Linked DNA regions of Homo sapiens: region 2 is linked to region 1. A link means that fine-mapping ties the variant in region 1 to the expression of a gene that starts in the linked region. Tissue or cell type: whole blood. Region 1 holds a variant in brackets; the other region holds the start of a gene. All regions are shown on one strand. Distances are from middle to middle.

Region 1 (2,680 bases):
CAGAGAAAAATGCTGACTTTTATAAAGTGCCATTATTATGATTATGAGCTGCCTCGTGTGTGTGGGCATGGGTTTGCCATGAAAACTATGAAGAACTTTGAGATGGGCAAGACAATTCCTGGGTGTCTTCTGGACAAGATCTAGGGAGTTACCTAGCAGACCTTCCGGACTGACGTGATGCTACAGGGGTCCCATCTTTCCTTGTCATTGAGCTATTTTACAGTTCTGTGAATTGTAAAGAACTGAGGGTAATGCGAATGACTCTTGTTCATAGAGGCAAATGAATTTTGTCCCATGGAGATTTAATTGATATTACTCTGTGGATGTTGACAAGTTTTGTGTCTGTTAGCAAATTAATTTCAGTGTTCTTATTTGTCTTTGAATTGTTTCTTTTTAAAATTTTACTGGTTCCTTTATAAATTTACCTTTTTGAAAAAGTATTGTCCTTTAACAGGACCCTGGTGGCAGACATGGTTGCTGGGCCCTCCCTCACTGCCTGGGAACCTCTTCCCCAAGGCCCCAGGGCACCCTCTCCCCTCTCCCCTGCAGCCCCAGAGCTGCCCACTCCCAGGATTCCTCCTACCTCACCCCCTCCATCCCTCTGCTTCTCAGTGTAGGATATAGACTCAGGGGTGGGAGATCAGGGGTGAAAGCCACTATGAATACTGAGTCGGCTAAACAGAGTTGCTAAATTGGCCTGGGAATCTGCTGAGGGTCCATCCTCTTGATTCTATGGGAAAATGCAGTTTAAAGATCTAAAGAGCTGGGAGGTCCTTACAAGAGGCTTCCTTCTGTGGGCAGCATTGGGGTGGGGTGGTGAGGTTACCCCGCGGGTGTCTCCCTGCCCCAGTGGAGCCGGCAGTGGGCGAGGACCCCTGAGCACACTCACCTACGGTGTCAGGCTTGGTGCACTGGATGTGCATGTAGCCGCTCTCCCTCATCAGGCTGTAGAATACCTTCTCCTTGACGGGGTACAGCAGCTCCACATCCCTCTCAGTGAGGCCAAGAAACCTCCCGAAACGCTGTCCCAGGAGGAGGGTCAGGGTAGAGAAGTTGCTTAAAACCAAAGCCATGTTCAAGTGCAGGCCTTTCACGTGGCTGAAGGCAGAGAGAGGGGCCGGGGTGAGGCTGGGCTGGTGTCAAGGACAGGGAGAGAGGAGAGATGGCGGAGGAACAGGCCTCAGGGCTGAGGAGCGAGCACAGAGCCAGCCTCTTTCAGCACTGGCCCCACTGGGGAGGCCATGGGAGTTGGAGAAGGGAGGTTGGGGGAAAAATACAGTTTCTGGGGAGTTCTGCTCAGGGCTATCCCAGAGCTTGGTCCAGCAGAGAGGTCTAATGCCTGACCTTCCCCTCCTATCACAGGCCTTCTCTGCCTGGGAACCTGACCCAGAGCCGCAACCCTGGGTTACAGACAGGAGGATCCAAGTCAAC[G/A]TGCCTCAGGCACTGCTGAGTGACAGGTCACACTCCCTCCTCTCCCCTGGGGGGTCCTTGGCCCACCCTGCACACAGGTCCACTTCTTAGAGGACACACACACACACACACACACACACACACACACACCACCCCAACAGTGACCTCACCTGGGCACCAGCTGGGCCATATTAGTGCAGATCAGGGACCCCCAGTCCCCTCCTTGAATGTAGAATTCCTGGAAGCCCAGCCGCAGCATCAGCTTGTAAAAGATCCTGGCGGTGGCCACCGAGTTGAACCCTGGCAGTGATGGGGAAAGGCATGGAGTCACGGAGTCACAGGCAGATTGCTCCTTGGGCCCTCTGGTGTTCTATGAAATTTCTCAGGCCCGCCTACCCCCAGGTGGAGGTCAGAAAAGCTCACAGAGGCAAGAAGGAATCCTGGAGCCCAAATATAGGGGTGGCATCTCCAGCCCCGGAGGGCGGTGTGTCTGGGGCCGGCCTCTCAGGCCCCTCCTTTCCCAGCTTCCTCGGGCCAACTCCCTGCTCACCCCGCCGGAAGGAGAGCCTGGTGGGAACACCGGGCCCACCCTTGGCGAGGACGGGGCAGTTATGGAACCTCTAGCAGCCCCGTACCCTTCTTGGAGGATGCCTCTGAGAAGCCATAGCCAGGGATGGAAGGGCAGATGACTTCAAAAACGTGCTCATCGCTCAGGCCATGGTTCTTGGGGTCAGTCAGGAGTGGGATGATCTTATAAAACTCGTAGAAAGAGCCGGGCCAGCCGTGCACCATCAGCAAGGGCTTCGGGGTATGGCCTGCGGGCAGCTGGGGGGGCTTCACGTGGATGAAGTGGATGTCCAGCCCTGGGGGGACAGAGCACAGTCAGGGTGGAGGGAGAGAGAAGACCCTGCACGGTCAGGCTCTGGCACCCCCCAGAGCCTAGATATTGAGTCCTGCCACCCTTAGTGCCCCCGCCGCCCCTTCATGGTATTGACAGTAATAAGGGCTGACACTGGTTTCACACTCACACTGTGCTCCAGGTGCACAGATGTCCTCACTCAGCCTTCACAACCTCCCTGCAAGGGAGCTACGATTATTGCCTCCCGGTTTCCTTAGAGGTGCCCCCTGACAGCTGGGCCAGGTCTGTACAGCCACTGCTGGGTTTCCAGGGCTCAGGACAGCTCCTGGCTCACAGCAGGCCTCCATAAATACTTGTTCAATAATTTAAAATCTGGAGGGTAGGGAGAAAGCCCCACGTATCCAGCAATAC
Region 2 (2,680 bases), 43 kb before region 1:
AGGCTGGAGTTCAATGGTGAAATCTCAGCTCACCGCAACCTCCGCCTCCCAGGTTCAAGCGATTCTCCTGCCTCAGACTCCCTAGTAGCTGGGATTACAGGCATGTGCCACCACACCCGGCTAATTTTGTATTTTTAGTAGAGACGGGGTTTCTCCATGCGGGTCAGGCTGGTCTCGAACTCCAGACCTAAGGTGATCCGCCCACCTCGGCCTCCCAAAGTGCTGGTATTACAGGCATGAGCCACCGCGCCCGGCCATAAGGAGGATATTTTTATGCCGTTACAGAAAAAGATGAAAGCTCAGAAATGGAAGGGAGGTCGGAGAACCTGCAAAGGCATGCATGTGGGGTGAGGACTGCTCAGAGCTCAGAGAGGGGTGCTGGAAGGGACCTGAGAGGAAGCTTTGGTCCAACCACTCATTTCACAGATAGGGAAACAGGGGCCTGCGGACGGGTTGGTTTGCTCCTTGATTCCCAGGGCGCGCGGTCCTCCCCGAACCCAGCCTCGCTTCCCGCGCAGCGCCCAGCAGTCCCTGGCGCGGCGGGCCGGCCCTGCCCTCGCGAGCTTGCGGTCCGGTTGTGGAGGCCACCGGCTCCCTGGAAACATTTGGCTCCCGGCCGGGAGGCATGCCGCGCTCTCGGACCTGGGCTGGAGTAGGTGCCCTTGGCGGCCCTGGCTCGAGCAGTAATGGACTAGCCCCAGGGGGCGTTGGAAATGCTGCGACCCGCCCCCACATTTTTGCCCGAACGGAGACCCTCCGGGCTTTCACGGTCCGGCCTTCTACAGCGGCGGGGGAGCCGTGGCCTCTTGCAGGGCGCTCCGCGCGGTTCCCGACTACCCGGAGCCGAGGTGCGGGCTGAATCCTGCTGAGCTCCCCATGCTACCACCCCCGCAACCCCACTCTCCCGGGGCGGGTCTAAGAGCTCTTCGGGGAAATTCAAAGCACTACAGGGACCAACGTTTGCAGATGCTCTCCCTGCGCCGCGACCACCCTGTGCTTGGCCCAGTTCTCCCGGAGGCGTCCAGAGACTGGGCTCGTGCCGGGGGACGGAAGAGGGTGCGCCCCGGCGGATCCCTTCTTGGAGCCTGGACGTGAGCTGGCCGGTCCGGGGCTTGCAGACCTCCGGGAGGAGCTGCGGGGCTGAGCGGCGACCAGGAGGCCAGGCCGGGGCAGAGGACCGCCGAGGGCCACCGCGGGAGGCGCAGTCAGCTGCGTACAGGCTTGCGCCGCCGCGGGCCAAGACTCCAAATTGGGAAAGGGGTGGCCGCAGCTCTGCGCATGTGCAGGAGGCGCCGGAGTTTCACTTTGTAACTTTTAAGTGGTCGGAACACGCCCCGCGCTGCTGGGTCCCGCCAGACACGCCGCCGCCGCAGGTACAGGGGACAGGGGGCGTGAGGAGGGGCAATGCACCCTCCGCCTTTCCCGGGACGTGCGCGCCAGGTGTCCGGTTCCGGAACGGCTCCCAGCCTACGCAGACCCCAGAGCCCCCGACCCCAAGCAGGGGGTGACGACGCGGGATTGGGTGGGAGGAGAGGGTCCGGGCAGCGCCTCCATTCCAGCCCTGCGCTCCTTGGGAATTCCTGGCGGCTTTTCAGGACTTTCCTCTCCGGCTTTTCGCTTTCAGGGCTGGTATCTCCTTCTTCCCCACCCCTCTCTTTGGGATTTGTCGGCGGAGTCCGACCTCCCACCTAACTAGGAGTGCAGCTATGGGCTCCTCGGACCCTATACGAGGCCGGGCTGGGAAAGGGCCAAGCGTCCGACTCTCCTGACGCCAGGAAGGCAGAGGCCACCCCTCGGGCTGTTCCTGGGTGACCACTTCCTGCAGCCTTGGCGGAGTCCTGAGGAGGGAGGCTGGGGACTCGGGGACTGGGGGGAAGGGCGGGGGCGGAAAGGGTGAGGCGAGCTCTGCTAAGAAACCAAATCCGCAAAGGTTCCAGCACCTGATAAGACTAGCTACCTGAGGCCCTGGAGGGGCCTTGGTCATTCAGCCCCAGGCAGGTGGTGTCCTCTTCAAGGGCAGGGGTGGACAGCGTGGCGGACCCACTGACCCTCCCTTGACACCTCTCAGGTCATCCTCAAGTCTGCTGTGCCTTCAAGGGGGATATGAACGGAAGCCGAGGCTCCTTTTCCCTTCACACGCCCCTCTCCTTTGTTTAGTGTGGGGGCAAAGGTCTCTCCTAGCTGTTCGTTGGGCTCTAACAGAGAAGACGTCAGGTGGGATCCTGCCCTTGTGTTTCCCATTAGCTGGAGGGGCGACTTAAAATAAAGGCAGACAGCTTCTAATTGCTTGCTAGGGCCGGGTCCTGGGCTAAGTGCTTTACAGGTGTTGTTTGGGATCTGTGCCTCCCAACAGCTCCGTGAGAGAAAGTCATCACTCGCATTTCCTGGCGAAGGAAGCCAAGGCACAGAGTGGTTAGGCTGCTTGTCTGAACTGCGTGGTGCTGAGACCCTAACTCCAGAGCCTGCTCACATAATCCCTGAGCCACACTGCCTCTGGTTTCAGCCAGGGGCTGTGTCATTTCCTTTGTGCTCCAGGGTAGGAGGTAAACAGTTGTCCAGGTTACTGGGTCCTGTTTGGTGTTGCCATAAGGAGAAGTTTGTACTTTACTTTGCAACCTTATTCTGCATCTGAAAGACCAGAGTTAGCTCCTGAGGCAGAAGGCCTGGAGCTGCTTGTAGT

The links. PIP is the estimated chance that this variant, and not a neighbour inherited with it, causes the effect.
Region 2: it holds the start of TMEM63A, and the variant in region 1 is fine-mapped to the expression of TMEM63A in whole blood (TOPMed, PIP 0.99).

The regions. Positions count from the first base shown.
Region 1 is chr1:225,838,247-225,840,926 of GRCh38, reverse strand. It overlaps EPHX1 (epoxide hydrolase 1), which reads right to left. Exons shown (of 9, transcript NM_001136018.4): 4 at 2,046-2,273; 5 at 1,581-1,710; 6 at 890-1,098. It also overlaps a transcript of TMEM63A not described here. Among named protein-coding and RNA genes, the nearest start is that of EPHX1, 29 kb to the right of the region's middle. The variant G/A (reference allele first, on the strand shown) is at 1,432.
Region 2 is chr1:225,880,997-225,883,676 of GRCh38, reverse strand. It overlaps TMEM63A (transmembrane protein 63A), which reads left to right and starts at 1,297. Exons shown (of 25, transcript NM_014698.3): 1 at 1,297-1,373. RefSeq lists enhancers at 379-428, 489-538 and silencers at 1,049-1,208, 1,769-1,888.